2 separate regions of the Homo sapiens genome follow, and region 2 is linked to region 1. The links come from fine-mapping of genetic effects on gene expression. Tissue or cell type: lymphoblastoid cells. Region 1 holds a variant in brackets; the other region holds the start of a gene. All regions are shown on one strand. Distances are between the middles of the regions. Region 1 has its middle 70 kb from the start of CAAP1. Region 2 holds the start of LRRC19 (leucine rich repeat containing 19).

What was found. PIP is the estimated chance that this variant, and not a neighbour inherited with it, causes the effect. A credible set is the group of variants that fine-mapping cannot tell apart.
Region 2: it holds the start of LRRC19, and the variant in region 1 is the best candidate, but not a certain one, in a credible set for the expression of LRRC19 in lymphoblastoid cells (GENCORD, PIP 0.80).

What each region holds. Positions count from the first base shown.
Region 1 is chr9:26,814,428-26,830,901 of GRCh38, forward strand. No RefSeq gene overlaps it. Among named protein-coding and RNA genes, the nearest start is that of CAAP1, 70 kb to the right of the region's middle. The variant C/A (reference allele first, on the strand shown) is at 8,295.
Region 2 is chr9:26,996,457-27,012,930 of GRCh38, forward strand. It overlaps LRRC19 (leucine rich repeat containing 19), which reads right to left and starts at 9,216. Exons shown (of 5, transcript NM_022901.3): 1 at 9,136-9,216; 2 at 3,158-3,247; 3 at 1,272-1,785; 4 at 1-43. The coding sequence starts at 3,238. It overlaps IFT74 (intraflagellar transport 74), which reads left to right. Exons shown (of 20, transcript NM_025103.4): 9 at 12,564-12,702; 10 at 15,450-15,512.

The DNA of each region.
Region 1 (16,474 bases):
TATTATATATAATTATATATTTATATATAATTATATGTATATAAATTATATATAATATATAATATATAAATATAAATTTTATATAATATATAAATATAAATTTTATATGTAAAACACCAATGGAGATGTTATTTGAAAAAACACCAAATGGAGATGTTATTTGAAAAAACACAATAGTATCAAAAAAATTTTAAATTGCTACATGGGCTTAATAGCAGAATTGGGACAAAACAGAAATGAATTAGCATGCTTGAAGATAGAGCAATGGAAATAATCCAATCTGAACATGAGAGGAAAATGATCTTAAAAAAAAAGCTTCAGAGATCTGTGTGACAATATCAAAAGGCCTAGTATATAAGTAACTGGGGTCCTGAAGAAGAAGAATGAATATATATACTGTGTATATACATATGAAGAAAGATTAAATACAAAGAAAATCATGATAAGGCACATCAAGGTGAAACTACTTAAAACAAAAGACAAAGGAAAAGTTTTGAAGGTAGCCAAAGAAAAATGACACATTACATACAAAGGAACAACAATTCAAATAACATGGACTTGTTATCAGAAACTATGAAGCCCAGAAGACAGTGGAATGCCTTTTGAGTCCTACAAACGGCACTGAGTTAAGGACAAAGAAGGGTATTTTATCAGTAGTGGGGGATAATTCGCCCTAGATGAGCACATAGCAGTCCTGCTTAATAAATCTTAAACACAAGAATGGAAAGAATCAAACTATTTACAAGCAACTTAACTGTATCTCAGTAAAAAAGCTTAAGACTATTTATAGGAATAAAAATATTCAGCACCCAACAAACTAAAATCCACAATGTGTGACATTCAATCAAAATTGCCAGATCTGTAAAGAAATGGCAATATATGACTCATCATGGAGAAAAACTAATTAATTGAAAATAACCCAGAACTAACAGAGTTGCTAGAATTAGGAGACAAAGACTTTAAAAAAACAGTTATTGTAACTGTTTTCTATATGCTCAAAAAGTTAAAGCATGAAAGATATAAAAATGCATATCAGGCCGGGCGCGGTGGCTCATGCCTGTAATCCCAGCACTTTGGGAGGCTGAGGCGGGAAGATCACCTGAGGTCAGGAGTTCAAGACGAGCTTGGCCAACACGGTGAAACCCCGTCTCTACTAAAAATACAAAAATTAGCTGGGCATGGTGGCAGGTGCCTGTAATCCCAGCTACTCAGGAGGCTGAGGCAGGAGAATCACTCGAACCCAGGAGGTGGAGGTTGCAGTGAGCCGAGATCACACCATTGCACTCCAGCCTGGGGAACAAGAGCAAGATTTCATCTCAAATAAAAAAAAATGCGTATCAAACTTCTTAAAATGAAACCATTACAATGTATAATGAGAAATGTATTAGGTGGGATTAATGCCAAGGATGGGATTAATTGCAGAATAAAAGATTAATGAGCTTAAAAGACAGAAAGATAATTAAAAAAATAAAATAAACAGAGCATCATTGAACTATGGTAAAAACTTTAAGTACATTATATATATATATATAAAATGTACATACTGTATATACACATATGAAGAAAGATTACATACTATATATATGTATATATAGTATGTAACATATATATAATCTTCATATGTAATAACATATATATATGTTATTAGTCTTTCTTCATATATGATAACATATATATGTATATGTTACTAGAGTCCCCAAAGGAAGAACGGGGCAATAGAAAAATATTTGTAGAAATGATGGCCAAAAACTTTCCAAATGTGTTAAAAATGATAAATGCACAAATCCAAGAATTCCAATTAACTCCCAATCACAAGAAACATGAGTTCACATTGCAATAAAATTGTTCAAAACTGGTGATATAGTCCTATAAAAAGTCATGTTATATACAGAGAAACAGTGATGACAGAGATATCTTAATGGAAACACAGTGGAGCAATATCTTTAAAGTATCAAATGAAAAAGGCAGACAATAACGAGTGTTGGCAAGGAAACTTGAATCTTGATATATTGCTGGTGGGAATGTCAAACGGTGCAGCTAATTGGAAAGCAGTTTTCCAGTTTCTCAAGAAGTTAAACACACAGTTACCATATGACCCATCAGTTCCACTTTTAGGTAAATACCTAAGAGAAATAAAAATATGTGTCTACACAAAAATTTGCACATGATTGTTTGTAGCAGCATTATTCATAAGAACCAAAAAGTGAAAACACAATAATCAGCCATCTCATGAATGGATAAATAAAACATAGTATATCTGTATAAAAGGAACATTATTTGACCATTAAAAGGAATTAAGTGTGATAACATGGATGAAGGATGAAAATAAAGAAGCCAGAAAAAATGGTACTTATTGTGTGATTCAATTTATATGAAATATGAGGAATAGGCAAATCCAGACAGACAAAAAGTATATTAGTGGTTGCCATGGGCTGGGGGAAGTTGGGCCTGGAGGGTATCTGCTAATGGGTATGATGATGATGATTTTGTGGTGATTAAAATGTTCTGCAATTAGTATTGATGGGTGCATAACTCTGTAAAAACCACTGAATTGTACATTTTTAAAGGGTAAACTTTATGCTATGTGAATGACATATTAACAAAGCTGTCAAAATAAATGATAGAAATACATTGTGGAATATATCTAGAAAGAGAGTGTTACAAATGATGTACTATGTACAAATACTATTTATTTTTAATAAGTAAAGAAAAATTTAAAAATATAAATTGCCAAAATATCCTAATTAAATGGTAGAGACTAATATTAGATTAAAAAATAGAAGACCCAACCATATGCCAACTACAAGAAACTTAATTTAAATACAGATACTCCTCAATTTACCATGGGGCTACGCCCTGATAAACCCATTGTAAGTTGAGGATATTATATGTAAAAAATGCATTCAATACACCTAACCTACCAAACATCATACTTTAGCCTAGACTACCTTAAGCATGGCCAGAACAGTTACATTAGCCTATAGTTGGGAAAATCATCTAACACAAAGCTTATTTTATAATAAAGTTTTGAATATTTCATGTAATTTATTTAATACTGTATAATATGTCAAAATTGCAACAGTTTAACATCATAGCAAAGTCAAAAATTCCTAAGTTGAACCACGGTTGGGGATCATCTATATAAGACACAAATGGAGTTAAAATAAAGGTTAGAAAACATATACCATACTAACACTAATCAACAGAAAGCAAAACACTAATCAAAAGATACTAACATTAATCAAAAGAAAGCAGTAGTTGGCTGGGCACAGTGGCTCACGCCTATAATATCAGCACTTTTAAAGACTGAGGTGGGTGAACAGCTTGAGCTCAGGCATTAGGGACCAGCCTGGGTAACATGGCAAAAAACCATCTCTACAAAAATAGAAAAATTAGCCGAGCATGGTGGTGCACACCTGTAGTTCCATTTACTTGGGAGGTGGGATAATTGCTTGCACCCAGGATATGGAGGTTGTAGTGAGCCAAGATCATACCACTATACAGCCTGGGCAACAGGGTGAGATCATCTCGAAAATAAATACATAAATAAATAAGATAAAAAATAAGGCCAGACACTGCGGCTCACAACCGTAATCCCAGTACTTTGGGAGGCGGAGGTGGGTGGATCACTTGAGGCCAGGAGTTCCAGACCAGCCTGGCCAACATGACCAAACGCCGTGTCTACTAAAACACAAAAAATTAGCCAGGTGTGGTGGTGGGAGACTGTAATCTCAGCTACCTGGGAGGCTGAGGCAGGAGAATCACTTGAATCCAGGAGGCAGAGGCTGCAGTGAGCCAAGATCACGCCATTGCACTCTAGCCTTGGCAACAAGAGCGAACTCAGCTGACACCCTGATTGCCATCTTCTAGACTCTGAGCAGAGGACTCAGTTAAACCATCCCAATTCTTGATTCATAGGAGCAGAGATAATAAATGTGTGCTCTTTGAAGCCCAATTTGAGGTAATTTGTTATGCATCAACACAAAGTATGCTTTCTTTCAGTAAGTACAGAAGACATAAACAGAAAATAAGATCATATGAAGATTTGAACAACACTGTCAACCAAATTGACTTAACTGATGTTTACATAACGCTCCACCTGATAATACCAGAATATGTCTTTTTTTTTTTTTTTTTTTGAGACGGAGTCTCGCTCTGTCACCCAGGCTGGAGTGCAGTGGCACAATATCGGCTCACTGCAAGCTCTGCCTTCCGGGTTCACGCCATTCTCCTGCCTCAGCCTCCCGAGTAGCTGGGACTACAGGGGCCCACCGCCATGCCCAGCTAATTTTTTGTATTTTTAGTAGAGACAGGGTGTCACCATGTTAGCCAGGATGGTCTCGAACTCCTGACCTCGTGATCCGCCTGCCTAGCCCTCCCAAAGTGCTGGGATTACAGGCGTGAGCCGCCATGCCCGGCCCAGAATACATCTGTTTTGTTTTGTTTTTTTTAAGTGTTCATGGAACGCTTACCAACATAGACCATATTTTAGGCAATAATAACAAATCTCAATAAATTTTAAAAGATTCAAGTCAAACAAAGTATTTCCTGACTACAATGGAATGAAATAAAAAATCAGTATAACAGAAGATCCCTAGAAAAGTCTCCAAATATTAGGAAACTAAAACATACTTCTGGCCAGGCACGGTGGCTCACGCCTATAATCCCAGCACTTTGGGAGGCTGAGGTGGGCAGATCACGAGGTCAGGAGATCGAGACCATCCTGGCTAACACGGTGAAACCCCGTCTCTACTAAAAATATAAAAAATTAGCCGGGCGTGCTGGCAGGCACCTGTAGTCCCAGCTATTTGGGAGGCTGAGGCAGGAGAATGACATGAACCCAGGAGGCGGAGCTTGCAGTGAGCGGAGATCGTGCCACTGCACTCCAGCCTGGGTGACAGAGCAAGACTCCGTGTCGAAAGAAAGAAAAGAAAGAAGGAAGGAAAGAAAGAAAGAAAGAGAGAGAGAGAGAGAGAGAGAGAGAGAGAAAAAGAAAGAAAGAAAGAAAGAAAGAAAGAAAGAAAGAAAGAAAGAAAGAAAGAAAGAAAGAAAGAAAGAAAGAAAGAAAGAAAGAAAGAAACTTCTAAATAACCCATGGGTCAAAGAAAAATTAGGAAGGAAACAATTCTACCAGAAATACCGTAAAGCACCACAGACACTGAGCACTTATAACTTCACAAAGTTTTAGGTAAATGAGCAACCAAATGTAGACTGAATTATTGTATTTAAATACTTTAAAATGCAGCTCCTACAGAAGGTAACAGAGCTCCTACTGCAGGAATAGAAACAGGATTGTTACACTACCAAATATTTTTCCTGTAGGCTGAAAAGAGAAACTGTCACTTAGCCTGATGGCAATGAAAAACAAAAGATGAATGGAAACCAATTTATTTAGCCACTTTGAATCTCTGTTTACTTTTTTTTTTTCTCAGATGGAGTCTTGCTGTGTTGCCCAGGCTGGAGTGCAGTGGCGTAATCTTGGCTCACTGCGACCTCTGCCTCCTGGGTTCAAGCAGTTCTCCTGCCTCAGCCTCCCGAGTAGCTGGGATTACCAGCACGTCCCATCATGCCCAGCTAGTTTTTGTATTTTTTGTAGAGATGGAGTTTCGCCATGTTGGCCAGGCTGCTCTCGAATTCCTGACCTCAGATGATCTGCCCGCCTCGGCCTCCCAAAGCGTTGAGATTACAGACATGAGACACTGCGCCTGGCCCTGTTATTTATTACTTGTCAGCACATGCTGTTACTTCAATTTTATAAAAATCTAAAGATCACTCTTCTCTCCCACCCCATCTTTTAAAAAGAGACACAATTTTAAAACATTAAAAAAATTCTAAGTTTATTGTTTCTATTATTTTACTGAAGTATTGTTTGTTTATTGAACACTCTGCAACAAAGATTATTCACTGCTTTTACTAGTTAAGTTTAAATGTTTACAGGGATCATTGTGAAAATATAATTTTGGACCTATCAAGATAATACACAAACACAACAATTTTAAACAAGGCATTCAGAGAAAGTTTCCATTGCAATTCTGCATAGAATTGCGAGGAAGACTGAGACAGCAAACTCACAGCTAATAAAAAGTTCAATTTCTTTTTACTTTTTTTTTTTTGAGACGGAGTCTTGCTTTGTCGCCCAGGCTGGAGTGCAGTGGCGCGATCTCGGCTCACTGCAAGCTCCGCCTCCCAGGTTCACGCCATTCTCCTGCCTCAGCCTCCCGAGCAGCTGGGACTACAGACGCCCGCCACCACGCCTGGCTAATTTTTTGTATTTTTTAGTAGAGACAGGGTTTCACCGTGTTAGCCACGATGGTCTCGATCTCCTGACCTTGTGATCCGCCTGCCTCAGCCTCCCAAAGTGCTGGGATTACAGGCATGAGCCACCGCGCCTGGCCTCAATTTGTTAACTATAGTGTAATTGAACTCTTCAACATGTTACAAAACGCATACTTGTTACACCCAAAGTATATGATATTTCACTTTGATAATACCACAAGGTTTACATCATTCAATGGCAATCAACCATAAAAAAAAATCTTGTTCATATTGACTCACAGACATAGTGGCTCATATTGCCATGGGAAAAAAAAATTGTATTTGGAGAATCTGTCAAGAGAGTAATATTAAGCAATGTATGTTAATAAAATGTGACGCCTACCTCTGCCAAGCATAAAAGCCTGTTATCCCTAATTATGTTCTTCATCAAGTGTATACCTTTAAAGTGTCAAACACAGCCTACTAGTTGTGGGGCTAATTTTAGCTTTCAGTAATCAACATATCTTATGCTTCAAATGACATTAAGTGGCAATCTACCACAGAGTGCACAAGTCCATTTCCTTTATTCTATTGTTTCAGTGAACAGAAATTACACCATTTCTAGCATTTCCAGCAAATTTAGAGTTTGACTACAACCAGGACTCAAAGTAAATGTTAAGTGAATATAACACTGTGTTTTCAAATAGTTGCCTAAAGATAATGCCTCATTTAACCAATAAGTCAAGAACAGAAGCTGCCCATATAGTCTTCCTACATCAAAATATCTGTTTTTTGCAAAGCTTATTTGCACACAACTGCACATGAACCCCATTTCTTGCAGACTGACTCATGATTAGAAACATCAATTATCATATAGTACTGCGATATTTAGAGCAAGCAAAAACTCCTGAGTGTGTTATTATTTGCCCTTGCACTAAATAGGCTTCAAGAACCATGTAACTATAGCTCTGTCACTTCTTTCATTGCCAGACGTCATTTCTCCCTGTTGCATGTACTTCCTATGCACATCTCCCAGCACTCTCTCCCACACCTTCAACATCCTCTGAGCTTGAAGAATGAGCAACCATAGTTAACATACAACTCTAGAATATTGAGACTGTCATTTTTTTTTTCTTTTTAGATAGGGTCTCACTCTGTCACCCAGGCTGGGGTGCAGTGGCACCATCATGGCCCACTGCAGCCTCAACCTCCCAGGCTCAGGTGATCCTCCCACTTCAGCCTCCCATGTAGCTGGGACTGCAGGCATGCACCACACTCCTTGATGCCTTACAAATTTAGATACTCTCAGGAGGAGCTACTATTTAAGAGTTCCTAAATTCCACATCAATGCACTTAATAAAAGTTAATTTTGAGGATTCAAAAATAACCTTCAATGAAATGCCTATTCTTCACTAAAAGCTTTTGAAAATTCAACTGACATTAATTTACAGGCGGAGACATGAAAACCAGTTCTTATAGTTATATGTTGATGTAAATATGTTCTAAAACTGGGAATATTGATTTCATTTACTCAACTCGGAAAGCCATAAGTTATATAAGACTGATTTTTGCCAAATTGGTTGAAATTCACATCCTGACAAAACAGATTTTTTAATTCTGATAAAGATTTTCCAACTACTGATTAGATGGGAAAAGACGACATCGTAAGGTATATTTAAAGAGAATAGTTAATTATATAAACATGTACTTGGCCGGACATGGTGGCTCACGCCTGTAATCCCAACACTTTGGGAGGCTGAGGCAGGTGGATCACCTGAGGTCAGGAGATCAAGACCAGCCTAACCAACATGGAGAAACCCCATTTCCACTAAAAATATAAAAAATTAGCCCGGAGTGGTGGCACATGCCCATAATCCCAGCTACTTGGGAGGCTGAGGCAGGAGAATCGCTTGAACCCAGCAGGCAGAGGTTGCAGTGAGCCGAGATCGTTCCATTGCACTCTAACCTGGGCAACAAGACTGAAACTCCATCTCAAAAACAAAAAACAAAAAAACAACAAAAAAAAGTACTTAAAAAAA[C/A]CCCAAAGATAATTAGTTATTGGTTGTCCTCCATATTTTCACAAGCATATGGTATTTACAGTTATAGTCTTTGGTTCTTTCTGTGATTATAGCAGCAGTTTGATTAACTAGTGCACAGCAAAAACCATTTTACAGGCTTTAGAATGTATAAGTATTATGTTACATATTTTAATGCGAATAGCAAGAACTATAAAACATGAAACCTGACCCCCCAAATGCAGAATTTTAACTTTTAAATTTGGCATAAATAAGGTAGCTTAATTAGCACTTTTTCTCGGCTCCACTGCAAGCTTCACCTCCCGGATTCACGCCATTCTCCTGCCTCAACCTCGCCAGTAGCTGGGACTACAGGCGCCCGCCACCACGCTCGGCTAATTTTTAGTATTTTTAGTAGAGACGGGGTTTCACCGTGTTAGCTAGGATGGTCTCAATCTCCTGACCTCGTAATCCGCCCGTCTCGGCTTCCCAAAGTGCTGGGATTACGGGCTTGAGCCACCGTGCCTGGCCAATTTGGTGATTTTTAAAAATCACACTAACGACAGAATCTTATTAAAAATCCTATGTCGGACCAGGCATGGTGGCTCAAGCCTGTAATCCTAGCACTTTGGGAGGCCAAGGTAAGAGGATTGCTTGAGGCCAAGACTTCAGCCTGGGCAACATAGGAAGACCCCATCTCTATAAAAAAATAAAAATCAGCTGGGTGTGGTGGTGCCTGCCTGCAGTCCTAGCTATTTGGGAGACTGAGGTGGAGGGATCCTTAAGCCAAGAAGTTCGAGGCTGCAGTTGAAATGGGATAGTTCCCTTAACCCCTTTGGGGTTGGCTAGTTTACTCAGCCCACGGCTCTCAACCCCTCATAGGAGGGGAAGCACGCAGCTGAGTGGGTGCGGGGGCCCGTACAAGTGCTTCTGGACACCGGCAGGAGTAGAACTCTGTGTGGCCCCATGGCAGTGTCTAGGGGGGTACCTGTGATGCCCCTGGACCTCCAGAGGGTATGTATTACTAAAAGAGTGTGCTCTTTTAGTTTTGCCTTCCATGGACAGCTTAAGTGTTAAACAACTCAGTGAAGGGTCAGGGTGACAGCCTTTTGCACCCACCCTCTTGTACCCAAGTTCTCGTCTGGCATCTAGGAAGAATCAGGTTACACAAATGATCTGAGGGTTGGTGAATGTGGAGGATTTTAGTGAGCAGTGGAAGTGGCTCTCAGTGAGGTGGGGAGCTGGAACAGGGATGGAGTGGGAATGTAGTCTTCCCCTAGAGTTCAGCTCTCCCTGGCCAAACTCTTTTGAAGTCCCACTGTCAAGCTGTCCTGCTGAAGTCAAGCTGCTTCTCTCTGACATCTGGCTGCTTCTTCTCTTCTCTCTTCCTCTGCCTCTCCACTCTGCCACCCTGTCCCTCTGCCAGTGGAGCCTAGGGTTTTTATGGGTACAGGATGGGGTGTGGGGCAGGCCAAAAAGCAACATTCAAGCTGGAAGACAGGAATTTATGTTCTCACTATGGGCCACAGGCTTAAGGGTGTGGCCCTCGCTGGGACCACCCTCTTCTACCCAGTATTTCCCTGCTTCCTGTCCATATCACAGAGAGCAGTGCAGCTTGGGCAACAGAGTGAGACCCTATCTCTTAAAAAACAAAAATGCTATGGTCAAATGTATTTAGAGGGGAAAACAAATCAGTTACCAAAACTTCTAGTTCTTCCCTGGAATTTGAAAAAAAAAAGTCCCAAGCAGAAAGGATAATGCTAAAATAGAAGAGTAATGAACAAATATGAATTGTTCAAAGGAAGCAAGTTATCTTTCAAAAGTAACACATTAAATTCTATTCTTCTCCTTTAAAAAATTAAAACTATTAAATTTTTGATCTTTTTAAATCTATAGTTGTACCATTTTATTTTTATATAAATGACTCAATTTTATGATAAAACAGGTTTTTCAACTGACAATAACTATCTATTATAACAATACACCTAATACAACTAAATTCCTTTGCTATTAAGAAGCAGTGCTAACTTGTTTTACCTTCAGGCTAACAGTTGCTTCTGTCAAATAACAAACAAGCTTTGATTTTAAAATTAAAAAAAAAAAGCTTGAATAACATCAAAATTAACAAAATAATTTTGACTTTGTAAATATTCAGTAATATATTTTACATAAATTAGTTCTCCGTGATATAAAATACTGGATTATAATTTGTATACAAAGAAAATTGAATGCATATTTTAAAATGAAAACATAGTTGTATCTTGGGAAGCAAAAGTAGAGTTTTTCAATCTCTTTAAATCCCCACATAAAACAGGCAAAGCAATAGAAAGAAAAACCAAAACATTTCAAGCTAAGTATAGATGTTATTATAAGGACATATTATAAGTATGTCCTATAAAACCCATCATAAGTTGAAATAGCATAAGTCAAAAATGCATTTAATACTTTTTTTTTTTTTTTTTTTTGAGACAGAGTTTCACTCTTGTTGCCCAGGCTGGAGTGCAGTGGTGTGATCTTGGCTCACTGCAACCTCTGCCTCCCGGGTTCAAGCGATTCTCCTGCCTCAGCCTCCTGAGTAGCTGGGATTACAGGTGCCCATCACCGCGACCAGCTAATTTTTGTATATGTTTTAGTAGAGACGGGGTTTCACCATGTTGGCCAGGCTGGTCAAGAAGAACTCCTAACCTCAGATGATCTGCCCGCCTTAGCCTCCCAAAGTGCTGGGATTACAGGTGTGAGCCACTGCACCCAGCCAAAAATGCATTTAATACATCTAACCTACCAAACATCATAGCTTAGCCCTGCCTACCTTAAACATGCTCAGAACACTTACGTTATCCTGCAATTGGGCATAATAATCTAACACAAAGCCTATTTTATAATAAAAGTGTTGAATATCTCATGTAATTTACTAAATTCTGTACTGAAAGTAAAAACTAGAATAGTTGTATGGGTATTCAAAGTACAGTTTCTACTGAATGTGTTGCTTTTGCACCAATATAAAATCAAAAAATTCTAAGTTGAACCATCATAAGTTAAGACTACATTCCTATGATATTCTCATGAACTCCATAATATAAATTATTATTTATTATTAGAGCAGGCCACTAACAAGTCATAAAACCTTCATAATATCAGCATTTCTGTGGAAGAAAGCAAAGGAAAGCCAATTAGGATAGGTTTTGTCTCTAATAAGAATGCAAGAAATAATAAGGTCTGAACAGAGCCGGAACAGTGTAACCCCTAAGAACTCCAGAAACTGACCAGCCAGGACTCCCTTCTAGGACAGAATTCCACACTAAGGAGAAAGAGCTAGTTGTGATATAGAAAATCGTTCCGCCTTCCTCGAGCGGCTACGGGAGGACTTAAGGAAATATACTCCCCTGTGACCCGACTCCCTCGAGGGTCAATTGATCCTAAAAGATAAGTTTATTACCCAATCAACCGCAGATATCAGGAGAAAGCTCCAAAAACAAGCCCTGGGCCCTGAACAAAATCTGGAGGCATTATTAAACCTGGCAACCTTGGTGTTCTATAATAGGGACCAAGAGGAACAGGCCCAAAAGGAAAAGCAAGATCAGAGAAAGGCCACAGCCTTAGTCATGGCCCTCAGACAAACAAACCTTGGTGGTTCAGAGAGGACAGAAAATGGAGCAGGCCAATCACCTGGTAGGGCTTGTTATCAGTGTGGTTTACAAGGACACTTTAAAAAAGATGGTCCAACAAGAAACAAGCCACCCCGTCATCCATGTCCCCTGTGCTGAGGCAATCAATGGAAGGCACACTGCCCCAGAGGGCAAAGGTTCTCTGGGCCAGAAGCCCCCAACCAGATGATCCAACAACAGGACTGAGGGTGCCCGGGGCAAGGGCCAGCTCATGTCATCACCCTCACTGAGCCCCAGGTACGTTTAACCATTGAGGGCCAGGAAATTGACTTCCTCCTGGACACTGGCATGGCCTTCTCAGTGTTAATCTCCTGTCCTGGATGACTGTCCTCAAGGTCCATTACCATCTGAGGAATCCTGGGACAGCCTGTAACCAGGTGTTTCTCCCACCTCCTCAGTTGTAATTGCGAGACTTTGCTCTTTTCACATGCCTTTGTCGTTATGCCTGAAAGTCCCACACCCTTATTAGGGAGGGATATATTAGCCAAAGCTGGAGCTATTATGTACATGAATATGGGAAACAAGTTACCCATTTGTTGTCCCCTACTTGAGGAGGGAATAAACCCTGAAGTCTGGGCATTGGAAGGACAATTTGGAAGGCCAACAATTGCCCACCCAGTCCAAATCAGGCTAAAAGATCCCACCACTTTTCTTTATCAAAGGCAATATCCCTTAAGGCCTGAAGCTCATAAAGGATTATAGGATATTATTAAACATGTAAAAGCTCAAGTCTTAGTAAGGAAATGCAGCAGTCCTTGCAACACCCCAATTCTAGGAGTACAAAAACCAAATGGTCAGTGGAGACTAGTGCAAGATCTTAGACTCCTCAATGAGGCAGTAATTCCTCTATATCCAGTTGTACCCAACCCCTATACCCTGCTCTCTCAAATACCAGAGGACGCAGAATGGTTCACTGTTCTGGACCTCAAGGAGGCCTTCTTCTGTATTCCCCTGCACTCTGACTCCCAGTTTTTCTTTGCCTTTGAGGATCCCACAGACCACACCTCCCAACTTACATGGACGGTCTTGCCCCAAGGGTATTGGGATAGCCCTCACCTGTTTGGTCAGGCACTGGCCCAATATCTAGGCCACTTCTCAAGTCCAGGCACTCTGGTCCTTCAGTATGTGGATGATTTACTTTTGGCTACCAGTTTGGAAGCCTCATGCCAGCAGGCTACTCTAGATCTCTTCAACTTTCTAGCTAATCAAGGGTACAAGGCGTCTAGGTCGAAGGCCCAGCTTTGCCTACAGCTGGTCAAATATCTAGGCCTAATCTTAGCCAGAGGGACCAGGGCCCTCAGCAAGGAACCAATACAGCCTATACTGGCTTATCCTTGCCCTAAGACATTAAAACAGTTGCGGAGGTTCCTTGGAATCACCAGCTTTTGCCTATGACTATGGATCCCCAGATACAGTGAGATAGCCAGGTCCCTCTCTACTCTAATCAAGGAGACCCAGAGGGCAAATACTCATCTAGTAGAATGGGAACCAGAGGCAGAAACAGCCTTCGAAACCTTAAAGCAGGCCCTAGTACAAGCTCCAGCTTTAAGCCTTCCCACAGGACAAAACTTCTCTTTATACGTCACAGAGAGAGCAGGGATAGCTCTTGGAGTCCTTACTCAGACTCATGGGACAACCCCACAACCAGTGGCATATCTAAGTAAGGAAACTGATACAGTAGCAAAAGGCTGGCCTCACTGTTTATGGGTAGTTGTGGCGGTGGCTGTCTTAGTGTTAAAAGCAATCAAAATAATACAAGGAAAGGATCTCACTGTCTGGACTACTCATGATGTAAATGGCATACTAAGTGCCAAAGGAAGTTTATGGCTGTCAGACAACCGCCTGCTTAGATACCAGGCACTACTCCTTGAGGGACTGGTGCTTCAAGTGCGTACGTGTGCTGCCCTCAACCCTGCTACTTTTCTCCCAGAGGATGGGGAGCCGGTCAAGCATGGCTGCCAACAGGTTGTAGTCCAGACTTATGCCGCCCGAGATGATCTCTTGGAAGTCCCCTTGGCTAATCCTGACCTTAACCTATATGCCGATGGAGGTTTGTTTGTGGAGAGTGTGATGCAAAGGGCAGGTTATTCCATAGTTAGTGATGTAACCGTACTTGAAAGTAAGCCTCTTCCCCCAGGAACCAGCGCCCAGTTAGCAGAAATAGTGGCACTTACCCAAGGCTTAGAACTGAGAAAGGGAAGAAGAATAAATGGGTATACAGATAGCAAGTATGCTTATATAATCCTACATGCCCATGCTGCAATACAGAAAGAAAGGGAGTTCCTAAACTTTGGGGGAACCCCCATTAAATACCACAAGGAAATCATGGAGTTATTGCATGCAGTGCAAAAACCCAAGGAGGTGGCAGTCTTACACTGCCGAAGCCATCAAAAAGGGGAAGGAGAGGGGAGAACAGCTGCATAAGTGGCTGGCAGAGGCAGGAAAAGGCCAGCACAAAGGAAAGAGAGAAAGAGACAGAAAGTCAGAACAAGAGAGAGAGAGGAAGAGACAAAGAAGGAGTCAGAGAGAGAGACAGAAAGTCAAAGAGAGAGAGGAAGAGACAGAGACAAAGAAGGAGTCAAAGAGAGAGACAGAGAGAGGAAGAGACAAAAAGGGAGTCAGAGAGAAAGAGAGATACAAAGAAGAAGTCAAAGTGAGAGAATGAGAGATATAGAAGTAGTAAAGAAAAAACAGTGTACCCCATTCCTTTAAAAGCCAGGGTAAATTTAAAACCTATAATTGATAATTAAAGGTCTTCTCTGTAACCCTATAACACTCCAATACCACTTTGTTGTCAGTGTAAACAAGGGCGTAGCCTGAAAGCACTGAGGCCACTGACAACCCATAGTCTTCTTATCAAAAATCCTTAACCCAGCAGGTTTCCTAACATGGGATCTAAATCTTAATTAATTACCACACAAAGGTCCAACCAGATCTAGGAGGAACTCTCTTCAGGACAGGAGGATAGATAGTTCCTCCAGGCGATTAAGGGAAAAAGACACAATGGGTATTCCGTAAGTGATAAGCAGTTAGGAAAATTGCCTAATAACCGGTCTGCTCAAACTGTTTGCACTCAGCCAAATCTTAAAGTACTTACAGAATCAGGAAGGAGCCATCTATACCAATTCTAAGTTAATAGGACTGAATGAGGTTTTATTAATAGCAAAGAAAAATTAAAATCCCCAACTTACAAGGTTTTCAACTAAAGTAAATTTTGCTAAGTTAACAGGGTAATATGCATTATCCTACTACCACACACTCTCAAAGGATTTCTCAGACAGTTTGCAAGAAATAACGAAATCTATCCAGTAAGGATAGTAATTACAATCCCAAATAGACTCTTTGGCTGCAGTGACTCTCCAAAACTGCTGAGGCCTAGACCTCCTCATTGCTGAGAAAGGAGGACTCTGCACCTTCTTAGGGGAAGAGTGTTGTTTTTACACTAACCAGTCAGGGATAGTATGAGATGCCAACCGGCATTTACAGGAAAAGGCTTCTGAAATCAGACAATGGCTTTCAGACTCTTATACCAACCTCTGGAGTTGGGCAACATGGCTTCTCCCCTTTCTACGTCCCATGGCAGCCATCTTGCTATTACTTGCCTTCAGACCCTGTATTTTTAACCTCCTTGTTAAATTTGTTTCCTCTAGAATCGAGGCCATCAAGCTACAGATGGTCTTACAAATGGAACCCTAAAGAGTTCCCCTCTGGAGGACACTACAACGGCAGGGCCCGTTCTTTGCCCCTATCCAGCAGGAATTAGCTAGAACAGTCATTGCCCAATTCCCAACAGCAGTTGGGGTGTCCTGTTTAGAGGGGGGATTGAGAGGTGAAACCAGCTGGTTTTCTGGGTCGAGCGGGGACTTGGAGAACTTTTCTGTCTAGCTAAAGGTTTGGAAACGCACCAGTCAGTGCTCTGTGTCTAGCTGAAAGGTTTGTAAACGCACCAATCCATACTCTGTAAAAACGCACCAATCAGCGCTCTGTGTCTAGCTAAAGGTTTGTAAATGCACCAATCAGCACTCTGTAAAAATGCACCAATCAGCGCTCTGTATCTAGCTAAAGGTTTGTAAACAGACCAATCGGCACTCTGTAAAATGGACCAATCAGCGCTCTGTAAAACGGACCAATCAGCAGGATGTGGAAGTGGCCAAAAAAGCTGGCCACCCAAGCCAGCAGTGGCAACCCATTCGGGTCCCCTTCCACACCGTGAAAGCTTTGTTCTTTTGCTCTTTGCAATAAATCTTGCTGCTGCTCACTCTTTGGGTCCACACTACCTTTATGAGCTATAACACTCACCACCACGGTCTGTGGCTTTACTCCTGAAGTCAGCAAGACCACCAACCCACCGGGAGGAACAAACAACTCCAGACGTGCCACCTTTAAGAGCTGTAACACTCACTGTGAAGGTCTGTGGCTTCACTCCTGAAGTCAGTGACACCACGAACCCACTGGAAGGAACAAACTCTGGACACACCATCTTTAAGAACTGTAACACTCACCGTGAGGGTCCGCAGCTTCATTCTTGAAGTCAGCGAG
Region 2 (16,474 bases), 180 kb after region 1:
TGCAGGCTGTTGGGGTAGCTACACATGGTGATGTTCTCATTTTCTAGTAAATCAGAAAGAATAAGATTTAGTATAGAGAAAAATAATAGTTAACAACATTTTATAATTGTTTTATCTAGAATTTTTGACATATTTGTCATTCTTAAAGGCATTATAAGAAATTCCTGTTGTATTTGTCTAGCAACATAATGAAAGAATGATGCACATTTCTGTTTATTATTTTATAAATATGGCTTAAATGCAGTATCTTTGTTATTTAGTTTATCTGTATTAGTGTAGATTTTATTATTAATATTGTGGTTACATGGTTACAATCTGGATCTCAGGCACAGTATGGTTTGCAGTTAAAATACGTCACTTGTTTTCACTTAGTCTAGGAAGCACTTTTAAAAAATTAGTCTGACATATTGACTTTGCTAACAATACATGAAATGACATTATCATCTCACATGTATAGAACATTTACATTTCTGGCCGGGCGCAGAGGCTCATGCCTGTAATCCCAGCACTTTGGGAGGCCGAGGCGGGTGGATCACCTGAGGTCGGGAGTTTGAGACCAGCCTGACAAACATGGAGGAAGCCCATCTCTACTAAAAATACAAAAAATTAGCCAGGCGTGGTGGCTCATGACTGTAATCCCAGCTACTGGGGAGGCTGAGGCAGGAGAATCACTTGAACCTGGGAGGCGGAGGTTGTGGTGAGCTGAGATCACGCCAATGCATTCCAGCCTGGGTAATAATAACAAAACTCTGTCTCAAAAAAAAAAAAAATTTCTTAATTTTTCCCCCTGGTAATGGGGAAGGAGAGCATCTATGCAGCTGTTACTTTTTAGTGTTTCTTCCTGTTTTGCTTAAACAGAAATTGTTTCCTTTCCTTTTTTTTTTTTTTTTTTTTTGAGACAGAGTCTCACTCTGTTGCCCAGGCTGGAGTGCAGTGGCACGATCTCGGCTCACTGTAACATCTGCCTCCCAGGTTCAAGCAATTCTCCCACCTCAGCCTCCTGAGTACCTGGTACTACAGGCATGCGCCACCATACCCAGCTAATTTTTGTATTTTTAGCAGAGATGGGGTTTCACCATGTTGGCCAGGCTGGTCTCAAACTCCTGACCTCAGGTGATCCCCCTGCCTTGGCCTCCCATAGTGATGGGATTACAGGCATGAGCCACTGCGCCTGGCTGCTTCCTTTTCTTTAAAACGTGATATGAGAGATTTTTCTGTGGTGGAACATTGAGTTAATCACATTTTGGTTTTGCTTAATTATGATAGCTTACCTAATGTCACATTTGATGTGTTCAACCAGTTCTGCAAATTAAATAGACTGCAAGAGCAGTTCCATAGGTTTCCATATAAAGTTATTAATTCCAGATGAAATAGTGGTGGTACATCCAAATAGCTAATCAAATTGCCTTGCAGATTCAGAAGTTTTAGGCTTCTTAGAGGCACAAATACATCAGCATTCAGTTGTTCTATTTTGTTTTGGCAGAGATATAACTGTTTTAGTTTATTTAAGCCTAAAAATGCACCCTGTTGAATTACATAGATGGAGTTTCTACAGATATTTAAAATTTCTAGACTGGAGAGGTTACCAAAACCGTTATTATGTAAGATAGTAACCTTGTTCTCAATCAAATAGAGCTCTGTGAGTAAAAAGTATGTCTGTAGAACTCTTGTGTCTGTACCATTAAGAGTAATTTGGTTATAACTGAGATCAAGTATAGTAACATCTTTCTTGATATCTGCTGGAATCAAGGTATAATTTTTTTCAGTAAAATTACATTGGACTTCCTAGAAAAACAAAAAAAAGAAAGGCATTAATCAGAAAAAAAATTAATAGAATTTCACCAAATTTCATATTTAAGCACTTAGACATTAGAAGGACGTTATTTTGGGAAAAAAACCTACTATCTAATATTTTGGTGTTACAGTAGAGCAAATCTTTTTCTTTATTGGGATGAAATACTAAAAATTAAGGATATTCTGATACATACAATTGAACAAAGAGATTCCAATTTGTCATACGGGTATTTTCCAACTGTTATTACATGATCATTACAGAAAGTAATGCTACTGGAATATTCCCATTTATATATGTGGAAATGTATGGTAAATAATAATTCTGTTAACATTTAATATTCCAGTGTGCACAATTGCTTTATAGTGAGGAAATTATTTTAAACTATATGTGTTTTTAAAATCAGCAGAGCTAACAACATTATACCTAGGGCTGTTCAATAATTAATAAATGGGCTGGGCATGGTGGCTCACGCCTGTAATCCCAGCACTTTGGGAGGCTGAGGCAGGCGGGTTACCTGAGGTCAGGAGTTCAAGACCAGCCTGTCCAACACAGTGAAACCCTGTCTCTACTGAAAATACAAAAAAAAAAAAAAGTCAGCCGGGCATGGTGGCAAGCACCTGTAATCCCAGCTACTTGGGAGGCTGAGGCAGGATAATCGCTTCAACCCAGGAGGCGGAGGTTGCAGTGAGCTGAGATCATGCCATTACACTCCAGCCTGGGCGACAGAGCGAGATTCCGTCTCAAAAGCAAGCAATCAATCAATCAGTCTGAATAAACTCTCTGGTTTAACTCTCTTAAACTCTCTGGGTTTAACAGCTCAAAGTTTGGTGTTTTAAAAGGAAATATTTATCTTTTATCAGAAATGGAGCCAGGTATTGAATTTAAAGAGCCACACAATCTGAAATTCTTTATGTGGATATAGATGGAAAGAAAGAAATAGTTCTTGTTTTTACTGAACAGTAAACTAAGAATAAATAGAACTAAGAATAGTTCTGGTTTATTACTGTTTTTGCAGTTAGATTTTTTCACCAATAATAATTCAATAGCAGTTTCTCTCATAAATATGTGCTTTTTAAAAAAAAGTTTCCTACATTTTAAACAAGATTTTACTCTTAAAACTAATTTCTGATTTTATAGTGAAAATTTTCAGATCTCTCCCTTTAATCAACTTTTAAAGAACTCAGTTTTTATAAATGAAGGCTGCTTTTGTCAAATTGGAATTTGGATATACAGAGCTAAATAAACTCTTAATTTTAGTAGGTCAGATTTTCTTTGCTTTCTTATTGCCCTTTTATATTTTACTAAATATACAGAAAATGTACCTTTGAAAATATTTTTACTATTTTGATTGTAAAAACTTACTCTTTTAGAAGACTGGATTTTGTCTGATAATAATATCATGGAGAGGGGCCAAAAGAGGATTGTGATGCCTGTGACTTTCATGTTGCAGACCTGATAGAAAAGAGAGTATTTTCATTAAGGACATTTTTATTTTTCCCTCTTTTGAATCTGTTTATTCTTTTTTTTTTTTTTTTTTTTTGGCTGAGACAGGGTCTCACTCTGTCACACAGACCTGGTGGCATGGTCACAGCTCACTGCAGCCTTGATCTCCCAGGCTTAAGCAGTCCTCCCAACTCAGCTTCCTAAGTAGCTGAAACACAAGCATGCACTACCATGCCTGGCTAATTTTAAAAATTTTTGTAGAGATGGGGTCACCATGTGTTACTCAGCCTGGTATCAAACTCCTGGGTGCGAGCCATTTCCCCCCAGCCACTGGCGTGGCCTTGAAAAGTGCTGGGATTATAGATATGAGCCACTTACCCTGGCCTTTCAAATCTACTTTTTCTTGAAATACATAAAATGTGAAACAAGTGCATGGCCATTCACCATCCTTGCACTCTGATCTTAATAAACTAGAAAGCCCCTTTGAAGAATGAGACTGATTTCTATTTTTTCTTTTTAGAGAAAATTAATATTTTTAAGTGTGTCTCATTAGTTTCTAGATCTCATGAAAGGAGCTTTAAAGCAATTTAAGTGGTTGTAAATTTTAAAAATTTAATATAGAAGTGCACAAAAGAAATTCAGGAAAACGTATATTTATGCATGTTTAAGTATATGCTTATATTGATGGTCTTGATTTTTTCAATTTTAGGCATTATCTATTGGCATTATCTATCTATTATTCTTGACTTAAAACTGTGGGAGATGAGAATCTTTAGCACTCTTTTTCCCCCCATGGTAACTTTTAAAAATTTTATTGAGGCGTGGTAGATATACATAGTTTTGGGGTACATGTGATAAAGTAGTGCATTCATATAATTTTTAAAGATCAAATTAATGTACTTGGGATATCCAACACGTTAAATATTTGTCTTTTCTTTATAATGGAAACATTCAAATTCTCTTCTAGCTGTTTTTAAATGTACAGTAAATTAGACGAGAGGGAGAGCATCAGAAAATAGCTAATGGATGCTGGGCTTAATACCTAGGTGACGGGTTGATCTGTGCAGCAAACCACCGTGGCACATGTTTACCTATGTAACAAACCTGCATAACCTGCACATGTACCCCGGAACTTAAAAATAAAAGTTGAAGGAAAAAAATTACTGTAAACTATAATTACCCTACTGATCTAACACTAGGCCTTCTTTTTTTAAGCAAACTGTATGTTTGTATGCATTAATAAACTTTTCTGCATTCCTCCCTCCCTACCACCCTTTCCAGCCTCTGGTAACCACTAGTCTACTCTTAATCTATATGAGGTCCACTTTTTTAGCTCCCACATGCCGGTGAGAATGTGTGATATTTGTCTTTCTGTGCTTGGCTTATTTCACTTGACATAATGACCTCCGGTTCCGTTTTTGTTGCCGCAAATGACAGGATTTCATTTGTTTTTATGGCTGAATAATATTCCATTGTATATATATGCTACTTTTTTTTAATCCATTCATCTGTTGATGGGCACTTAGGTTGATTCCATAGTTTTGCTCTTGTGAATAGTCCTCCAATACACATGGGAGTGCAGCTATCTCTTTAATATATTCATCTCTTTTTTTTAAATGTATACCCAGTGGAATTACTGGATCAAATGTAAATGTAAGTGTTATATTTTTAGTTTTTTAAGGAACCTTCATACTGCTCTCCAGAGTGGCTATACTAATTTACATTCCCAAGAGTGTATGAGGGTTCCCCTTTCTCCACATCGTCACCAGCATCCGTTATTGCCTGTCATATTGATAGAAGCTACTTTAATGGGGGTGAGATTATATATCATTGTAGTTTTGATTTGCATTTCCCTGAGTGATTACTGATGTTGAGCATTTTTTCCACATACTTGTTTGTCTTTTGTGTGTTTTTTGAGAAATATCTATTCAGTTCTTTTGCCATGTTTACTTGGATTATTTGTTTTTTATCGGTTTGTTTTTGGCTAGTGAGCTGTTTGAGCTCTTTATATCTTCTGATTATTAACCCCTTTTTAGATGGGTAGTTTGCAAATATTTTCTCATTCCGTGGGTTGTCTCTTCACTTTTTTGATCATTTTCTTTGCTGTGCACAAGCTTTTTTGCTTGGCGAAACCCCATTTGTACATTTTTGCTTTGGTTTCCTGTGCTTTTGAGGTCTTAGAGACACAAAAAAATCTTTGTCCAGGCCAGTGTTCTAGAGCAATTCTCCAACGTTTTCTTTTTTTCTCTTTTTTTTTTTTAAATAAAGAAAAGAGGTTTAATTGACTCAGTTCCACAGGCTGTACAGGATGCACGTCTGGGGGGTCCTCAGGAAACTTACAATCATGGTGGAAGGTGAAGGGGAAGCAGGCATGTCTTACATGGCTAGAGAAGGAGGAAGAAAGAGCAGAGGGAGGAGCTACACACTTTTAAACAACCAGATCTTTTTTTCTTTTGAGACAGAGTCTGGCTCTGTTGCCCAGGCTGGAGTGCAGTGATGCCATTTTGGCTCACTGCAACCTCTGCCTCCTGGGTTCAAGTGATTCTCATGCCTCAGCCTCCTGAGTAGCTGGGACTACAGGCATGTGCCACTTTCATGCGGGTCCATGTGAAGAGACCACCAAACAGGCTTTGTGTGAGCAACATGGCTGTTTATTTCACCTGGGTGAAGGTGGGCTGAGTCCGAAAAGAGAGTCAGCCCTCCAGTGTTTTCTTGAAACAGTTTTATAGTTTGAGGTCTTATTAAAGTCTTTAATCCATTTTTATTCCTGGATATGGCAAGAGATAGGGGTCTGGTTTCATTTTTCCATATATAGTTATGCAGTTTTTCTAGCACCATTTATTGAAACAACTATTATTTCTCCATTTTATGTTCTTGGCACCTTTGTTGAAGATGAGTTGATGTAAATGTGTGTATTTATATCTGAGTTCTCTATTCCATTCCATTGGTCTATGGATCTGTCTTGATGCCAGTACCATGCTGATTTGGTTACTATAGCTTTGTAGAAAATTTTGAAGTCAGGTAGTGTGATGCCTCCAGCTTTGTTCCTTTTTGCTGAGGGTTGTTTTAGCTATTTGGGATCTTTTATGGTTCCATATGAATTTTAGGATTTTTTTTTCTACTTCTATGAAGAGCGTCACTGTATTTTGATAGGAATTGCATTGAATCAGTAAATTGCTTTGGTTAGTATTGATATTTTAGCAATGTTCTTCCACTCCATGAACATGGATTATATTTCCATTTTTTTTTGTATCCTCTTCAGTTTCTTTCATCAGTGTTTTACAGTTTTTGTTATATAGATATTTCACTTCATTGGTTAAATTGATTCCAAGGTATTTTATATTCTTTGTAGCTATCGTAAACAGGCTTGCTTTCTTGATTTCTTTTTCAGATTCTTCACTGTTGGCATATCTAAATTCTACCAATTTTTATATGATGATTTTATATCTTGCAACTTTACTGAATTCAGTTGTCAGTTTTTACAGATTTTTTGTGGAGTATTTAGGGTTTGTTTTTTTTTTAATTTTTTAAGTGTAAGATCATGTCTGCCAGGTGCAGTGGCTCACGCCTGTAATCCCAGCACTTTGGGAGGCCGAGGCGGGCAGATCACCTGAGGTCAGGAGTTTGAGACCAGCCTGGCCAACATGGCGAAACCTCATCTCTACTACAATTACAAAAATTAGCCGGGTGCAGTGGCAGGCACCTGTAATCCCAGCTACTTGGGAGGCTGAGGCAGCAGAATTGTTTGAACCTGGGAGGCAGAAGTTGCAGTGAGCCGTGATCATGCCACTGTGCTCCAGCCTGGGTGACAGAGTGAGACTCTGTCTCAGAAAAAAAAAAGAAAAACTAATCAGAGTAGGCAAGAATCCATGCAGCATACTAAAGTCTCTCGCCTCGTTAGCAATAAGGAATTTACTGCTATTTTAGTGCTAGTCTGTTCTAGTCAACTTCCTCATTGCCTTTGATTTGTTGATCCATTTATGCACATTCCCCTTCTACCTTTTCTCTTTCCATAGTTAAATGAAATTTGTTAGGAAAAGCTACTCTGCCTCCTATATTTTATAAAATTTGGATGTAGATCATAATAGAATCCCTTTTAGAGCCAGAAGTGCATTTAAACTATCACTTATTCAAGATGATTGCCCATAGAAGAGGGATGCCTAAATCATTTACAAAAGGTAGTTTACCTATGTTTAATGATTTATAGGAATAGGTGTTCAGCTCCTTCAATGGCTTGTTTCAGTATTTCTCAATGATGTGGTGAAATTCTTACTGATGTCTCTAGTAGGCTGCAGAGGTGACTGAGGAGAGGTGGGTAAGGGAAGTGCTGTTTTTTTTCCAGAAACAAATAGGATGGGGATAGTGAAAGAAAGCAAATAGGCTACAAAGAAAATGAACTAGATTTAAGTTAAAAGTTGATATGAAATAGAAGCAGGTGAAAAAAGTAATGGAGGCAAGACAGGACTGTGAGCTTATGTGGAAATGGAGACGGAGTATGGTTTTATATTTATTATCTGTATCTGCTATTTAATGCTAATAATTGTTTTCTCAAGTGCGCTAAAAGAAAAAAATCATAAGGATTAGAAAAGGATTTTTTTTCCTTTCCATTGGATAGATCTTGGAAGCAGTGTATACTCAGCTCAAGGTAGATTCTGTACAAGAAAGCATTCAACAAATCTAAAGCATCGTTAGGTCTGAAGCTGTGAAATACATTGATTGATCCATACTATCTGTGAGAGTTTTCACATATTTGTGTGCCTTTTCAGAGGAGAAAGATTGAAAGAGGGGGTGATGTCGATTATCATGACACTGAGTAAGTCCCCAGACAAAGCATTTGCTAGCATTATTGGGTGTCTTTAAAAAAAGAAAATCAGATACGCAGAATAGCTGGCCAAGTAGATTATGCAGAAATTATCCATCAGTCAGTTTAGCCTGTTTCAACAGTTGGTTTAAAAGGAAGTCAGTCATTGTTGCTTTCTTTCTCCTTTTGGAATATTTTCTAATTTGGATTTTTTTTGAAATGATAGTTGAGTTTCATATAGTGATTACTTAGGAGCTAATATAAAATAGAAAACTGGAATAGAAGATGGAATATCAGTTTCTTTTGTTATTTCACAAAATTACGTGCATTTTTACCTAGCATATGATCTACGTTACTGAAAAAAAAAGAGCTTTACTCAAAGGAAATGGTAGATACTGAAAAAGAAGCATTGTTCTTAATAAAGTTTCAAGTACATGTTTCTTAAGTTATTTACTTTATATGATTATTATATGCTATGAAATAAAGAGATGCTGTAATTATTTTGGTTTTGTTAAAATCTAAATGTAGTTTTTCCATTAAGTATTTTAGATATTTATGCCAGAATTCAATGTATTTAGAGAATGATGTTAATAATACACAATTAACTTTGTTTCCTTATTTAACTATTGTGTAGATTTTTTTCAGATTTAAAACCTTTTTGTAATGGAAAATTTCAAGGAAAAAACCTAAGTAAGAAGAATAGTTATCAGCCTGCTTCAATAATCATCAACTCATGGCCAGTCTTTTTTTTATCTTGCCAATTGGCTTTTAGATTAGTGTCACTTCAGAATGCTCTGTGATTAACATATTTTAAAATAAAAATTCTTATAAATTTGATTGGCTAGATGAAACCATTTCCCCCCCCGCCCCCCGCAAAACAATTACTTAGTATTGTATTCTAACTTTATTTAGGAAAGACCCTTTGGCCATGTCTCAGGTATATAGTATTTTTGAGGTAGACCATGTGAAAATATAATCATATTTTCTTATTTTTCATCACTTCTTAAAGGCAAAGATGGTTGTACAGACTTAACAAACTTAAATATGATTAAAAAAAATACAACAATAACCAAAGCTATAAATATACATATCTTACCTTTTTTTCTTTTGTCTCTAAGACTTGTGTGCTAAAGGAAATTAACTCTGTTTCAACGGCATTAAAAAAAGTACATCGTATGATTACATTTCACTTTGTTTTAACCTTTGTACCCAGTGAACAGGTGATTTAAAAAAAAAAACTAGACTTCCTTAGCAAAAGATTGACTAGAAGAATAATTTCTTAAAGTCATCTTTTCCTTTTTTAGTATAACAAGTAAGGCTGTTTGCCTAACCTTTGTGTTTCTTTCTTTTTTTTCTTTTTTTGAGATGAAGTCTCGCTCTGTCATTCAGGCTGGAGTGCAGTGGCATGATCTCGGCTCAATGCAACCTCCACCTCCTGGGTTCAAGCAGTTCTCCTCCCTGCCTCAGCCTCCTGAGTAGCTGGGATTACAGGCTCCCGGCACTGCACCTGGCTAATTTTTGTATTTTTAGTAGAGATGCGGTTTCACCATGTTGGCCAGGCTGGTCTCAAACTCCTGACCTCAGGTGATACCCCTGCCTCAGCCTCCCAAAGTGCTGGGATTACAAGTGTGAGCCACTGCACCCAGCCTACCTTTGTGTTTCTTAATTACTCTTTGAAAATTTTATTAAAGTATTAACAATTTTACTTACTGATTTAGAGTTTACAATATTGAAAATGCATACTTTTGAAAGATATACTGTTGCTAAATTAATTTATGTTTGTCCTGATGGTATTTTGTGCTTAGAAGCATTCAAACTGAGGTCAGGTGCAGAGTCTGACACCTGTAATCCCAGCACTTTGAGAAGCTAAGATGAGAGAATAATTTGAACTCAGGAATTTGAGACCAGCCCGGCCAACTTAGCAAGACCTTGTCTCTACTCAAAATAAAAAGTAAAAACATTAGCAGGGCATGGTGTTGTGTGCCTTTAGTCCCAGTTACCTGGGTGGCTGAGGTGGGGGGATGGCTTGAGTTTGAGCATGCAGTGAGCCATGATTGTGCTACCACAGTCTAGTCTGGGTGACAAGTGGTACCTGTCAAGAAAGAAAGACAGAAAGAGGGAGAGGGAAAGAGAGAGAGAGAGAGAAGAGAAGAGAGAGGAGGGGGAGGGGAAGGAGGAGGAGGAGGAAGGGAAGGAGGCAGGGAGGGAGGAAAAGGAAGGAAGGAAAGGAGAGAGAGAGAAAAGAAAGGAGGTAGGGAGGGATTCAAATTGTAAAGATACCACCAAGTTTTGTATTCTATTGAGTTTCAACGTTTTTGTTTACTTATTATTGTGTGTTTTTTTTTTTTTTTTTTTTTTTGAGATGGAGTCTCGCTCTGTCACCCAGGCTGGAGTGTAGTGGCGCAGTCTCGGCTCACTGCAAGCTCTGCCTCCCGGGTTGACGCCATTCTCCTGCCTCAGCCTCCCAAGTAGCTGGGACTACAGGCGCCCACCATCACGCCCAGCTAATTTTTTTGTATTTTTAGTAGAGACGGGGTTTCACCATGTTAGCAAGGATGGTCTCGATCTCCTGACCTCGTGATCTGCCCGCCTCGGCCTCCTAAAGTGCTGGGATTACAGGCATGAGCCACCATGCCCAGCCTGTTTACTTACTTTTATGACACCATCATCAGTGGTTTTACTGCCAAGTTATAACAGGAGCAAAGTACTCAAAGCATCAAAAAGACCTTACACCTGGACATCATATGGCCTTTAGAAAGTCAGTTACTTTTCTTATGCTGTAATTTCTCCTCTGTAAAATGGAATACTTTATAACATTAGTTCTCATCTTCCTACATTGAAAGAAGAAACACTGTTGGTAGTCAGTAATCAAATTTAGAATGAATTCCTTCCAAAAGATTAATTCCACTGGGCTTCAGTATCCTTAATTTATGAAAATAGATACTTTCCTTTCAATTTCTTTGAGCTCATATACCTATACAAATTGTAGCAGCAGGAAACACATTTGTTTTACTGTTGTAATTGAAGCTCCAAGTGAAGATACCACTTCTTCTCCAACAGTGAAACAAAAATAAATTGAAATTCCAGGTTGCTTTACTATGTTCATCTTTTATTTGGTTATTTTGAGATTTTTTTTGGTAGGGAAATTTCTGAGTTTAGGTTGTTTATTCTAGTAGTAGGATATGAATGTGTAGAAGGTGTGTAGGGGATATGTGGATCCACAAGCTTAGCTGGTGATTGTGAAAACTATAGAAGTTGGTATCTATGAGCGAAAGAGAGTAAATAGTGATAGGTTAATCAGATTTTGAAACTCAAAATAGAAATTAATGATCTTGGGAGTGAAAATGTGTGTTCAATCCAGCTTTTTATAAAATGTAAATCTTGAAAGTATTTAGATAAGTGGCATCTTACCTATTCTTTTTTCAGAGTTTTTCTCTACCCTATCAATAATTGACCTTGCCTAGGCAACAAGTGACATGTCATTGGTATTTCTTTTGATTACGTGATAAAAATGGTTATTGCTTCTAATTAATTTCACTATTACTACTTTTATAGGATTATGTTTGTAATGTTTATTGTGTTTTTAGAGAAATGAGCTTAATATTTTACAATGCTAAAAAATAGCAAAAATTTGTGAAATAGCAATGTTAACTAAAGCAGTAAGTAAAAGAGAACTTAAGCAAAGCATATTATTAATCTAAAGCCATAACTAAAAAATCAAATTGCACTGCAGGCCTCTCTACTCCCTAGTTCTGTCAGAGCCACACTGGATGATTTACACGGGAAACTTCTATACAGTATTTAATTTAGTCAGAAAAACTTATGGCTAAAGGATGCTTTAAAACCACAATTCTAAAACTTATTTGTCTTTTTTTTTTTTGAGATGGAGTTTTGCTCTTTTGCCCAGGCTAGAGTGAAGTGGCGCGATCTCAGCCCACTGCAACCTCTTCCCCACTGGGTTCAAGCGATTCTCCTGCCTCAGCCTCCCAAGTAGCTGGGATTACAGGTGCCCGCCACCACGTGTGGCTAATTTTTGTACTTTTAGTAGAGATGGGTGTTTTGTCGTGTTGCCCAGGCTGGTCTCGACCTCCAGACCTCAGGTGATCCACCTGCCTCAGCCTTCCAAAGTGCTGGGATTACAGACGTGAGCCACCGAGCGCAGCCTCTTATTTGTCTTTTGAAGGTATAACTTTAAAAAAGTATAAATGCATCCTCATATATATAAGTCATTAAGGATTTTTTGGTAATCTTTGTGATTTCTTAGTAAAATAAAATGGAGAGTAAGGAAATAGAGGAATTTAGGGATGGAGAAGAGAAAGATGTAAAAATAAGTTTGTGCTAATGGGGCCAAATTTTATATAGGTCAAATAGCATTTTTTAGTACAAATATAAAGACTTTTCAGTCACACACTGTGGTTGAATGTCTTTAAGTATCCTATTAAATTAGGACCATGACTTGTATAAAATAATTGGATATTTTTTCCTCAATATAGTATCAGGAATATTACGTGCTTCTGATTTTAGGAAAGAAAAACAAATCAGAAGTGTCGAAGAAGAAATTGAACAGGAAAAACAAGCAACAGATGACATTATCAAAAATATGTCTTTTGAAAACCAAGTCAAGTACCTAGAGATGAAAACCACAAATGAGAAACTGTTACAGGTAATACAAATTACTGCTGTGTGCCAAGCATGTATCATTCTTGCTACTAAAAGTATAGTTTGAATATCAGCAGCATCAGCATCCCCTGAGAACTTGACTATACTTTGAGATCAGTTTTCATTTTAACAAGGTCCCCATCTGATTCATACGTATATTCACATTTCAGAAGAATTTATTTAGAAAACTTCATTTTCATCTGCTGTTTGATGACCTAGCTTTTACTCTTATTATTTTTGGTTTACTTCTATTTATTCATTTTGCATTTCATAAAGACATGAAAATACTCGCATTTATAAAAATACTTGTCTATAAATATTTGCATTTATAAAAGTACTTTTCTATAAATGTTTGCATTGATAAAAATACTTGTCTGTAAATTAAAAAGTCTGTAAATACTTGCAGTTACAGACTTTTAATGCAAACATTAAAAGGCCTCATAGGTGGAGGTTGCAGTAGTGAGCTGAGATTGCACCACTGCATTCCAGCCTGGGCAACAGAGCGAGACTCTGTCTCAAAAAAAAAAAGGCCTCATAGACCAGATCCATATATATATTTACTTTCCTTTTCCTTCCTGCTTAATAAACAGCTAACCTTTTTACCTGTTAGCATTATGATTTGAATGGCTATTGTCCTGTAATTATATTGCCTAAATTTCCATTTTTAAAAATTAATTTTTTTATTGATACACAATTGTACATATTTATGGGGTACATGTGATATTTCCATGCACGTATGCAATGTATAATGATCAAATCGGGATAATTAGGATATTCATCACCTCAAACATTTGGCATTTTTTTTGTGCTGGAAACATTTTTTTTTTTTTAATTTAAAAAAAATTTTTTTTTTGAGACGGAGTCTCGCTCTGTCGCCCAGGCTGGAGTGCAGTGCCCATCTCGGCTCACTGCAAGCTACGCCTCCCGGGTTCATGCCATTCTCCTGCCTCAGCCTCCCAAGTAGTTGGCACTACAGGCGCCCGCCACCACGCCCGGCTGATTTTTTGTATTTTTTTAGTAGGGACGGGGTTTCACCGTGTTAGTCAGGATGGTCTTGATCGCCTGACCTCGTGATCCGCCTGCCTCGGCCTCCCAAAGTGCTGGTATTACAGGCATGAGCCACCGCGCCCGGCCTTATGCTAGAAACATTTTGAATCTCCTTTTCTGGCTATTTTGAAACATACAATTAATTACTGATAACTATAGCCACCCTAGTGTTCTATCAAACATGAGAATTTATTCCTTCTCTCCCCCACACCACCCCATGCCCCCAACTGGGCACCACCTTCTCAGCCTCTGGTAACCATCATTCTACTACCCCCTTTTTTTTGTTTTTTTTTTTTTGTTTTTTTTGAGACGGAGTTTCGCTCTGTCGCCCGGGCTGGAGTGCAGTGGCGCGATCTCGGCTCACTGGAAGCTCCGCCTCCCAGGTTCATGCCATGCTCCTGCCTCAGCCTCCTGAGTAGCTGGGACCACAGGTGCCCGCCACCACGCCTGGCCAATTTTTTATGTGTTTTTAGTAGAGACAGTGTTTCACCGTGTTAGCCAGGTGATCCGCCCCCCTCGGCTTCCCAAAGTGCTGGTATTACAGGCGTGAGCCACTGTGCCCGGCCGAGATCCACTTTTTTAGGCTCCTACAGATGAGTGAGAACATGCAATATTAAATAAGCAATTTAAGTCCCTGTTGAGGGCATATTGAGAATCCTCTCAATACTCAGTCATGGTGGTTCCCTTTCATGCCCAGATGGCCCTTAACTAAAGATTAAGCAAAGAATTAGGCCCCATAAATGCCAATAATGATTATAGTTTTAGTTTCTTAGACATTCCTTTGCTGACAATTTAGTAACCTTTTTATTTTAGAGAAGATTTCTAAGATACTGTGAAGCGTTGAAGAAAAAGTATGGCCTGGCCAAGATGGTGAAACCCTGTCTCTACTAAAAACACAAAAATTAGCCAGGCATGGTAGCAGGCCCCTGTAATCCCAGCTACTCGGGAGGCTGAGGCAGGTACTTGGTTGATCCCGGGAGGCGGAGGTTGCAGTGAGCCGAGATCATGCCACTGCACTCCAGCCTGGGCAACAGAGCGAGACTCTGTCTCAAAAAGAAAAAAGAAAGAGTATGATAGAAATGCCAAAATAGTACCAAAATATAGTTAATCTTGTATGGGATAATGAATGAGTAAACAGTTTAAGGATCTTATCTTAGGAGTGAACCATATTTATATTTACATATACGTGTATGTATGTGTACATGTGAACCATATTTATATTTACATATATGTGTATGTATGTGTGCATGTGTTATATGTGTGTGTACACAGTATAGAGAAATTAGGCAAAAGATGTGAAAACACGGTTACAAATCAAAATTTTAAATAATAATCTTAAACAATGACATAATTTGAAAGCTTCTGATATTTGATGTCTCAGAACATAGTGATGATTCAGTGTGAAAAGGTCTAAGGTCTAGCTACTTTTGAGAAACTCATGAAGTTTTTTTTTTTTTTTTTTGAAGGCACACAGCAAGTTTTTAAGAATAATGAAAGAAGTTGGGAAAAATAGAAATAATGAAGTGTTAATAAATTCTAGTCAAAATGTAAGATGCCAGTGAAGATATTTAGAAAATTTACTTAGTCACTTTGAAATGTTGAGAAACAGAGAAATAAATTTTTTTTCCCAGCTCCCTCCCCCCACTACAACAAATTATTCTTAATGTAATTTGGATTTATGTTTGCTTTTTTTTTTCCACTTAGGAATTAGATACACTTCAACAACAATTGGATTCACAGAACATGAAAAAAGAGAGCCTGGAAGCAGTAAGTATAAAATCAAATAAGGGTTCTCATACTACTCAGCTAAAAAAGTTAATTCAGCCAAGTATATTAATATAACTAATTCAACTACATATTGATCTGGCAGCTTACTAATAGGAGTTTAATACTTTTTCTTCCTATTCTGGACCCACAAAGATCCTAGTATGGTAAGAAATTAGATTCAGTTATTGAGTACCTACTATGTATAAAACAAATCATTCCGCCCTACCTAGGACATGCAAAATCCAATAGCAATTAAAAAAATTATTTTTTTAGAGACAGAGTCTTTCTTTGTCACTCAGGCTAGAGTGCGGTGACATGATCGTAGCTCACTGTAAATTCAAGCTCCTGGGCTCAAGCGATCCTCCCTCCTCAGGTTCCCAAGTAGCTAGGACTTCAGGCAGGAACCACCACACCTGGCTAATTTTTTTTTTACTTTTTGTAAAGACAGGGTCTCGTTATGGCTGATGTACAGCTCCTGGCCTCAAGCAATGCTCCTGCCTTGGCTTCCCAATGTGCTGGGATTACAGGCATGAGGCATTGTGCTCAGCCTCTAATGGCAATTTAAAGACACATACACAAGAGATTATAAAAACAAAGAAAGAGGGAGAGACATGAGTTCATCTCTTTAAGGATGTAAAAACTTACTTTTTTTATTCATTTATTTAAAACGCTTTATTTCACAAAACAAAATGTGCATATGGTTTAAAAATAGTTGAACAAGAGGAAAGTAAAAATGTCTGTTTTTTTTTTTTTTTTTTTTTTTTTTTAGACAGAGTATCGCTCTGTTGCCCAGGCTGGAGTGCAGTGGTGCGATCTCGGCTCACTGCAAGCTCCGCCTCCCAGGTTCACGCCATTCTCCTGCCTCAGCCTCCAGAGTAGCTGGGACTACAGGCACCCGCCACCACACCCAGCTAATTTTTTTGTATTTTTAGTAGAGATGGGATTTCACTGTATTAGCCAGG